Linked DNA regions of Homo sapiens: region 1 is linked to region 2. Evidence: fine-mapped expression QTL. A gene starts in region 2. The other region holds a variant in brackets. All regions are shown on one strand. Distances are between the middles of the regions. Region 1 overlaps VPS37B (VPS37B subunit of ESCRT-I). Region 2 holds the start of VPS37B (VPS37B subunit of ESCRT-I).

Region 1 (5,000 bases), 26 kb before region 2:
CGTGGTCTAGGCACAAGGAGAGGCAACGCCCAGCTGCTTCCAACACTGCCCCCTCCCTGTAACCACCCAGAGGGCCTCGCTCCTGCTCCAGATCCCAGAGGTCATGGGCTCAGGCTTCAGCATGAGCTGCCACTAGGTGGAGAGGACGACAGCCCTGCTGCGCACCCCACCACCAGCGTGACAGGCAGAGGAGCTGGCCTTTGGGTGAGGGCTCCGACTCCTGGGTCCCAGGCCTCTCTCGAGCCCGCTGGAGTCCAACACCTCCTTGCTTCCACCCGGCTGCACCCTGACTGACAGACTCGCCCTGGGTGGGTAAGCAAGACAGAAACACCTGTGCCCCCAGGGCTTCAGAGTTCATCGAGCCCAGCCCTATCTTGGCAAGACCCTGCCGGCCCCAGCCTGCAACAACTGCACAACATTCGACCTTGACTCATTTCCTTATCGCCTGGCGAGGCTCAAGGCTCTAATGCGCAGCTGGACGTGTCCCAGAAGCTCTGTAGCCTCCTCCCAGCTGGCCCTTGAACGACGGCACGTGGTAATCCGCCACTGGCCCCAGGGGCCGGCGTTCACAGGGTGGCACGCATGCCCTCTCTTGGCCCTCGCTCGGACCTGCCCTCACTCACCCCGCTGCTCCCTGGACCCCTGCCTGGCACTTTCCCCAGCACACAGGCCAGGCTGCCTGCTGGTATACAGCCCGTACACCTGGGAGGCACCACTCCTGGCCGTGGCGGTGTGGCACTCACGGTCCCTGGAGGCAGCGGGCCCACGGACTGCCCAAAGCGCCCCAAGGATTCCACCAAGGCTGGTGGGCTTTACCTCAGTGTCTTCCTCAATCTTGGCCCCTTCTGCCTGAAGAAGTGCTAACAGGGTCTCCAAGGAAGCACTGCTAGACTGTCTGTCTGGAAAAAAAGCAAGAGGTATGACAAAAGTGAGAGGTGTCCAGGTAAAGCCCTTCATGATGCCAACCACGGCAGGATTGCACCTTCCTTTCCAGGAAGCTGAATGTGAAAGGCTTGAAAACCTACAGGGGAACAAGTGCACCAAGCCAGTGCCCAGGGGCCAACATCCCATGTCAGAGCAACCTGTGTCACCAGCTGCTTCTAGAACCAGCTGTTTTCAAATATGGGGCAGTGACATTCTCATCATGCCACTTTGTATTTCCTTTATGTTTTGAGTGGTAACTTACATCGAGTATACACATCTCAAGTGTGTAAGTCAAATTTCCACGTGTTTAACCGCCAACCACCACCCCCCAGATCCAGACACAGAACCTTTCCACCGGGCGCCCTCACGCCCACTGCACCCGCCAGATAACCCCTACGCTGGCCTCCACCACCACAGAGGAGGTCCGCCTGGTCTTGACTCCACATCCTGGAATCAGAGAGTACAGGTCATACTCTCCTGGCTTCTTGCACTCAGCACCGCGTCTCTGAGACCCTGCTCAGGTCTGTGAATCAGTTCGTTTCTTTCCAATGCTGTGTAGTGTTCCATTGTGTAAACAGACTTTATGTGCCCATCACTCTGTAGACGGACATTTTTATTGTTTCCAAATTTTATTATAAGGTAATAAAGATACAACATTCTTGTACCTATCTTCTGAGAGACATTAATATCCACTTCTGTTGGGTATACACCCAGGAGCAGAGCTGCTGTGCAGCGCATACACACTCTTCATTCTAGCAGGTGCTACCCAACAGCCTTCCCCAGGTGAAATGAGAAAAGGAGGTGGCTGTGGCAGTGCAGCCTGCAAGCCCCAGATGACCCATGGACACTCCTACCAGCAAGATGCACGGCACCTCACAGCACTTGGTACTGCCAGTCTTTTTACTTTTCGTCATTCTGGTTTGGGTGTATGATCGTAAATTTTTACTGAAGTTAATGGAGAAAATGACAAGATGATAGCAAGTAGTGACAGACATCACTGTAAACCTCACTGCAGAAGGTGATCTTTAACCCAAACTCTTTAAAGGGATGGGGTCTCTGTCACCCAGGGTGGAGTACAGTAATGCAATCACAGTTCACTGTGGCCTCAGCCTTCAGAGTAGGTGGGACTATAGGCGAGCACCACCACCCCCAGCTTATTTCACTTCTTTTGTAGAGACACAGTCTCGCTCTGTCGCCCAGGCTGGAGTACAGGGCTGCAATCATGGCTCACTGCAGCTTCAATCTCCAAGGCTCAAGCAATCCTCCTTCCTTAGCCTCCCAAGTAGCTAGGACCATAGGCGTGTGCCACCACCCCCAGCTCTGACTTTATCTAAATGTCCCTTTGATAACTATCAAAAGCACTTAGGATGCTCAACAATCTTTAATTCTGATGTCTCCTCCTAATGGCTG[C/G]AAATTAAAGTATGCCATTAAAATAAAGTGTTTCAGTGATGCTTTTTTTTTTTTTTTTTTTACCATTAACAAACAGCATAAGACAAACGGGCAAACGTCATAAGACATCTGTTTAATATCATAATTCAGAAAGCTTTTTCTATGCTGTTTAGAGAAGGTGGGGTCTTGAATTTAAAAAGTGGTTAAGTCTCCTCTTCTAAACTGGTGACTGCTAAACTGGCTGGCTTCCTCCTAATCTCCAGCCCCTTTTCTGGTAACTGCCCCGAGGTACCCACGTTTCTGCAACCTGCTTCACACTGCAGACCCTGGAGGTGCGTGTGGACCTGGGCTGACCTCAGCAGTCACCGCCACCAGTCAGGGCCACTGGGAGGAGGGGGCAGTCCTGCTATACACCCTGCCCTCTCGAACCGCAAGTGCAGAGAGGCCGCAGGTCTGGGGGCCCTCCATATTCCATACATAAACTAGTCCAATACAGTGGCTCATGTCTGTAATAGCAGCACTTTGTGAGGCAAAGGCAGGAGGATGGCTTGAGTTCAAGACCAGCCTGGGCAACATAGCAAGACAACCTCTCTGCAAAAAAATGAAAAACTAGCCTGCTTGGGGTAGTGCACACCTGTGGTCCCAGCTACTCAGGAGGCTGAGACAGGAGGATCACCTGAGCCCAGGAGGTCGTGCTGAGCCATGGTTGCGCCACTGCACTCCAGTCTGACAGAGCAAGACCCTGTCTCTAAAAATAAATAAATAATATACATAAGCTATTTGTTCATTGCAGTAGAGTCGCTATCTTAACCTGAAATTTTTCCGTAATATTTCTTTCCTGGTAGGGCAATAGCTTGAAAATGTGTCCTTCTCTCAACTCTTTATTCTCGAATGATCACCCTTAAAAAGTTACCTAATTTGGTCTTCTTTATCTGATAGGCTTCAAAGAGAACCTGGAGTTCCTGGTATTTCTGGGTCAAGCGTGCTTTCAACGTGTCCAGCTGGGGCTGGTACAAAAGGTTTCCTTCTGCCAGGCTCCGGTTGCTGGCAAGTGTCATTTCTTTGTTAAGCTGAACATTCTGTGTCTGCAAGGAACACACAAGATGATGAGAACCAAAAGTATATCAGCTCCTAAACCCCTGAGGTCCCCACGCACACCCCAGGAGCCCAGTGCAGCTGCTGCCACCTCACTGGTCTCCACAGCTGGCACCGCATGCCAGGCAGATGCTACTGACCCAGAGCCAAGCCCCTTGGTTTCTCATTTGGAGCTGCTGCCCGTCGTAAAGAATGAGGCCGACTTCCTTCCAGCACGTTTCCAGGACAGGCTTTGTCCTGTGACTCCATGCAGAGCCTTCCCTGCCACGGCTGCGCTGTGACTTGAATTCCTTACTACGGCCATTGTGCTTGCAGAAGTAAACAGCTGTAAAGATTTAGAATCTGATTTTTTTCAAAACAAGTTTCTGCTGCTCCCGAGGAAGTTAAGGAATCACTTATCAGCAGGAGACCAGTTGGCATGATGTCAATTCAGGCTTCATAAGCAGGCTAAGAGGTCCAACCAGCAAGCTGAAGAGACCCTGGGAAGGAACTGTGTTTCCAGCCACCGGGGTTCCTCTGTCTCTCCCATGCCCACCCCAGCTCTTCTGAGCCTTCCAGCTCCTAGCTGTTGGTGGGTGAGCAAAGCCGACCAAAAGCTGGGGGAAGAGGGGGGACATATTTTGCCCATCAGGGATTTCATTTTGTCCTTTAAAGCAATGACAGGCTACCCTGGTAGGTAGAGAAGAAGCCACATGCCCAGAACTTAGGGGAGAACGACAGGAGTAGAAGGTCTGAGAAAAAAAGGCAAAACGCTCCTAGCAAAACTTAGCCAAAGTTTAAATAAAAAACACAAACGCGTGGGTACCCTAGTTCCCTTTTCACTCACTGGTGATCGGCTTCCTCTACCACAGCCCAGCCGCCGCCACCTCACTTTCCTTCCACACCGTCAGTTTCAACAGCATGCGATTCCTTACCCAGCGTGTGTCCCTGTTTCTCTTTAAGCAGCTCTTCTTCAACGCCACCCCAGTCATCTCATTTTCCCCTTAATATTTTCTACCACCCCACCCAGGCTATTTTTGCTGCGACTTCCTTCCTCTTAGTAGCTCGAGTATAGATTCCTGGCCATGCTGCCTCTGCTCCCCACCCCCAGTCATACCCGTTGATTGCTGTCATAGTTCCTGGTGCGCTCACACGAGTGCACACGCACCACACACACAAGGAAGAGCCTCAGGGAATCAGAGAACAAAGAAAGAAGCCCTTGGATCCATGCCTCAATCAGGAGATCCCTAACCCCAGCAGGAGGGCTCTTTTCAGCAGACAGTGATCTGCATCTCCAGACAACAGCTGCACCCAGGGCCCTAAAGATCAGGCTCTGCTGAAACCCAACAGGATTTAAATGACAATGAAAACCAAACCTCTCTCCCAACTCTAAAGTAAAAGCTAGGAGTGTCCTCGAAATGTGGGTGGTAGAAATGCTTTCATCTCTTCTGATGCCTTTAGCAAAAAAGGAGAATCTTGGGACTGGAAAGACGCAGTTTCACTCGGGTTTCTGGTAAGCAGTGGGGCTCCCGTCACCCGCTTCCCCACCCACAGGGCGGCTCTCCATGGGCTTTCTATGCCAGGCCATGCAGAAGCGTCTTTCCTTCCATTGT
Region 2 (5,481 bases):
TGAAATGGGATCCTAGTAACTTTCAGGATGATCTGGTATTAATGATTGTCAGTCATCTTTCAAAAAGAGAACTATTAATATAAGTGATTAATTATTGCAATTACTTTTTATTGAGCCCTACTGATGGGCTGTGTTAAGTACTAATAGGCATCATCTCACCTGATCCTCACTCTATGAAATAGGTATTACTGTCATATTATCCTTTTCCAACAGATACTCAGGCAGGTGAAGTGACTTGCCTGCAATCACACAGCTGGGAAGCGGCCAAGTCCAGTCTGGAGTGTGTGATTCCAAAACCAGAATGTTCTTTAACACGCCATCACAAATGTTCCATTTGGTCAACAGTTCATAAAATATTTTCTTCTATTGTGTCTCACAATTACCCCCAACATAAGCCAATGCATAGCATTACCAGATGAGTGAAACTACCATGACCAAAAATTTCGGTTCACATTACACCCATTCCGAGAAAGGCACACCACACATGACCAGGACGACAGGATTGACAGTGATCCTCGCTAGGTGAGCTAAGGTATTTTGGTTTTCAAGTTGTTTCCTTGTTTTAAAAGCACTACACCCAGAAAAGCAAACTACTGCTGAGTAATTTAATGTGAACTATGCAGGCTTATCAAGTGGAGTCGCTCAGGCCTCAATACTTCTCTTGGGTATTCAGGTATGAAGGTCACTTTTACTCAAAAAAAAAAAAAAAAAAAAAAAATCCTGCCAGATGAATTTACCTTTCTCTTTAAAAAATAATCTTCAGGTTCTGAGGTAGAGGAAACAGGTGAGGTTGTCCCTAACAGCCTCCAAGTGAACAGAATGAACTTGATTCTTTCCACAAGCTTCCCTCCACTAAAGGCAGTTTATTTCTATTAATGTTCCACCAACAAAGCTACAGTACTCAGTTCTTACTGCAACAGAATAGTCACATATACCAAAATAACTTGTAGGCAGTGTTACACATTAGAAAAATATACCTATCATTTTATTATTAAACCAGAAAAACCCTGCTGACAATCAACAAAAGGTCTCCCAGCAACTGAAAAGCAGAGAAACTAAGCAAAGATTTTTTCTTTGGAGACATGAAACTCATTCAGCTAAGAAGGATGGATTTTATCACTTATTATTCTCCAAAATGGAAGGTGCCACATGGAGACCATAAACGGGGTACACTGCATCTTGGAGCAACGTTATTATGTGTCAAGTTACAAAGCCCATGAATACAAGGGGTGTATTAATGGAAAGACTGATACCATCTTACTACAGTGGCCTCTCTGTAGCTCCGGACAATGATCTGTTGAGGGTTTTCCAGGGATTTTGAATGTGCAACCTCCATACAAGCTCTCTTTTAAGGGGGCTGGCTTGGTGCTGAACAATCCCTCTTCGGAAAGAAAGCCAAAAGCCCCCACACGGGCTCCTGGGTGAGAGGCTCAGCACTGTAGGCGTGGGAAGGCTCAGACTTCAGAGACATAAAGGAGTGGTAGGTGGGCCAGGAAGAGCTGGGATTAGCCTGGGCCCACCTGCCTGGAGGAGAACCAGACCCAAAAGATCAGACTTTCCGAGAATGAGTCCAAATGGGTTGAGAGAAAGGGAGCACACACTGCAAATCTGCAAGGATGAAGTCAGTTACCCGAGAGCAAACCACACCTCAAGGTGTGAAGGAAGATAACCAGAAACAGGAGCTGGCACATGCCTTCCAGGGGCTGGGCAAGGCTTGACTCTCAGAGGTGAGGGTTGGCAGCCAGCCCCAAACCCCCATTTTAACTTCTTCCTGAAACTGCTCCAGGAACCTTCCTTAGTCCCAGACACGTGGGACGCAGTGGTACAAAGCCAGCCACACTAAATTTCCCACCTTCCCTTCCTCGGTGGAGGGGGCAACCCTTACAGAAAAACGTATCCTGTCGCCACCCTTAGGCCCATCCACGAACTCCCGTAACTCTGCTGGGGCCACTTCAAAAGAAGTCAGACTCCAGGGGCATTATTGGGACCCCTTAGATACATGGAACCTTCAAACCTTACCCTGGCTATGGTATGACCATGGACTCCTGCCTCCAAACCCTGGGCTGGGGACCCTCGCCCAACCCTTAAAGAGCCTCAGAACCACCTCATAGACTCAGCTACAGACCCTCAGCCTCCCGAACCCATCTTGGAACCCTCAATCCTCTCCTAAGAGTCCTATTTGGATAGTCCACTCAGTCCCCCAAAACCTACTCTGATCCCCTATAGCTGCCTCAGTCCCCCTGGTTGTCCCCAACCTTTCCTCTCAAAGGAAACCCCCCAACCTCTACCAGATCTAGCTCTTGGTCCCCCTCAGTCACCCCTAATCCTCGCCTCCGACTCAGCCCTTATTACTCTCCCCGCTCCTCCGACCAAACCAATCTCAGATCCCCCCAGTTCCGTCCTCTTCCGCCTAGACCCAACGATAGCACTCTAATCCCCAAATTCCCATTCCAGGCTCCCTAATCTCCACTTCAGACCCAGCCTTAAGTCTTCAGACCCAGCCTTAAGTCCTCAGCCCCACAAAACCTTGTCTCAGGACCCCCAATCGGCTCCCCAAGCCCCGTCTCAGGACCCTTTTTCCCGCCTCCGCCCTAGTCTCGGTCCCCTCAGTGCCTCAAACCCCCTCTCAGGCCCCCTATTCCTGCCTAAGCACCAGTCGCGGTTCCCTGGCTCCCGCACCCCGCCCCAAGCGCCCCCATTTCTAGCCCAGTCCCCTCAACACGACCGGAGGCGCCGCGGTCGCCTCCGCCTCCGGCCACCGTTCGAGGAGCGAACCCCGCTCGAGGCCTCACAGCCGCCGCCTTAAGCCCAGCTCGGCTCACCTCCTCCATCTTCTGCACCATCTCCGTCAGCTGGCCCTCGTCCTCCAGCAGCTCGTTGAGCTGCACCAGCGACAGCCCGGCGAACCGGGCTTCGCTCCCGGCGCCCGCCATCCCCACGTCTCGGCCGTCGTCGCCACCGCCGCTGCGGCCACCAGGCTCCGCCGACCGGAAGCGCCGCCCTCAAGGGCCGCCCCCCGCGGGGGGGACACGTGACGCCAGCCCTGGGTCGTGACGTCATCACCGCGCGGGCGGGCGGACGTGACGTAAGTGTCGCGGCTCGCTTGGAGTGGAATGTGTCAGGGACAGTCGGGACTTCTAAAGGGAGGGGAAGGGCCCTATGATTGGGCTGTGACGCGTGAGCGCATTAATGACGTCACTGCGGCTCGGGAGAGCGCGCCATGAGGTCATAAGAGCCTTTTTCCTCCAGGAAGAGAGATACCGCGATCCAAGGAAAACAGGCAGTGGGAAGGAAGTTCCCGCAGCCTGTGAGCCCAGCCCGATGCACGGAACCCAAAAGACAGAGACTTCATGGGGAAACAACTTTAGGTGTCATTGGTTACTTGGAATTGTGGAGCTGCCACGTCATTCATTTAACAAATATGTTTTGAGACCTACTCTGTACTGGGCATTGAGTATACAGTTCTGAATAAAGCAAAACGGACCCCTGCTTACATGGAGCTAACAGAATGAAAGAGGACGCAAACAAAACAAGAAATAAGTAAAATAATTAGGCGATCACAAATAAGGGAATGGACACTGAAATAAGAAAATAAAAAGACCTTTAGGGTAGTAAGAGATGGCACTTTCGGAGAAGGTGGCGTCTAAGGAAATGTGAAGGATGAGAAGGGAGGAACCAGCCACCATTCCTGTAGGAAGCTCAAGGCAGCAAAACCAGCACGTGCAAAGGCCCTGGGACAGGACTAACTTGGTGCATTCAGGAATGGGAAGAAGGCCAGTAAGGCTGGAGCATTTTGAGCAAGGACCCATTGAGTGGCCCCTTTGCATCACCTCAGAGGAAGGTGCCCAGACATCCAGGTGGGCCAACCTGTGCTCTTTCAGAAACAACACGATTTAGGGTGCAGTCGCTCTCAGTCTCTCAGCTACCGGGAAGCCTCTTAAGATCCAGGAGCCTGGGAACTCATTATCCTACTTTGGAATCTGTCACAGTTCTAGTTAGAAGAAACCTAAGGCTGAGGTTAACCATGACAGCCCCCTAATTTTACACATAAGGGAACTGAAGCCCTGAGAAGGGGAAATTTTTTGGGCTTTTGCTTTGTTTCTGAAAATCAAGTAATTGGCAGGTCTCCTGGCTCCCAGTCTGGCGTCCACCACGCTGGCATCATAACACACTGACCTCGTCTCATAACTCAGCTCTGAACACAGTCGAGGCATTCAGCAAATGCTTATCGGCAGACTTAGGGGCTTTGTGTATAAAGCTGATTCTTCTGCAACTCCATGGGTAAAACATAAGGTCTGTGTTCTCCATCCATACGTTAGGCTGGGCTCTGCCAACCTCTTCTCTCCTTCCAGCCCGTTGTACTAAGGGCTCGTGTTTGCAGAAAAATGATGAAAGTTAGAGGAACTATTGCTTTTTTTATTTTTTGAGACAGAGTCTTGCTCTGTCGTCCAGGCTGGAGTGCAGTGGTGCGATCTCAGCTCACCTCAATCTCCGCCTCCTGGGTTCAAGCGATTCTCCTGCCTCAGCCTTCCAAGTAGCTGGGACTACAGGCATGCGCCATCACGCCAAGCTAATTTTTGTGTTTTTAGTCGAAATGGGGTTTCACCATGTTGGCCAGGTTGGTCTCGAACTCCTGACCTCAAGTGATCCGCCCACCTCAGCCTCCCAAAGTGCTGGGATTGCAGACCTGAGCCACCCCGCCCGGCCAAAAGAAATGTTTCATATAATCCGTAAGCTAAAGGTTTTTTTTTGTTTGTTTTGTTTTGTTTTTTTTTTTTTTTGAGACGGAACCTTGCTCTGTCGCCCAGGCTGGAGTGCAGTGGTGTAATCTCAGCTCACTGCAAGCTCTGCCTCCCAGGTTCACGCTATTCTCCTGCCTCAGCCTCCCGAGTAGCTGGGACTACAGGCACTCGCCACCCCACCCAGCTAATTTTTTGTATTTTTAGTAGTGACGGGGTTTCACCGTGTTAGCCAGGATGGTCTTGATCTTCTGACCTCGTGATCCGCCCACCTTGGCCTCCCAAAGTGCTGGGATTACAGGCATGAGCCACCGTACCCGGCCAAGCTAAAGGTTTTATTGAGCTCAAAAGGACACTCGGTAATTTTCTTCCTTCTAACTTGTTATACTTGGTGAAGAAAGATGGCTCTAAGGAGGAAAGGACACAAGTGGGAAGGAGATGTAGGAAGCTGGCGTTTCTTTTTTCCTTCTCCCTCCAGGAGAAGAATAGACCTGTCAAATTGAGAATAGTAGCTCTATTTCCAGGAAATCCTCTCTATGAGGCTTAAGATGTCCAGGAATTTCTCATAGTCCCCACAGAAGGTGAGAATAAGGTAGGGGTCAGAGCTCTCCAGAATCTAGAGGGATGATGTGATTTAACCAAGAACATACCCCAGGAACAAAACTGGCTTCAGAATGGCATACCTATATACAGTGACCTCTAAACGTACTAAGTTTAAACACGGCTCACTTGCCACCCTTGC

The links. PIP is the estimated chance that this variant, and not a neighbour inherited with it, causes the effect.
Region 1: its variant is the best candidate, but not a certain one, in a credible set for the expression of VPS37B in blood mononuclear cells (TOPMed, PIP 0.85).

What each region holds. Positions count from the first base shown.
Region 1 is chr12:122,867,664-122,872,663 of GRCh38, forward strand. VPS37B (VPS37B subunit of ESCRT-I) reads right to left here. Exons shown (of 4, transcript NM_024667.3): 2 at 3,227-3,398; 3 at 817-899. Among named protein-coding and RNA genes, the nearest start is that of VPS37B, 26 kb to the right of the region's middle. RefSeq lists enhancers at 4,033-4,540, 4,450-4,739, 4,541-5,000. The variant C/G (reference allele first, on the strand shown) is at 2,335.
Region 2 is chr12:122,893,130-122,898,610 of GRCh38, forward strand. It overlaps VPS37B (VPS37B subunit of ESCRT-I), which reads right to left and starts at 2,995. Exons shown (of 4, transcript NM_024667.3): 1 at 2,823-2,995. The coding sequence starts at 2,933. RefSeq lists an enhancer at 2,659-2,808 and a silencer at 2,989-3,138.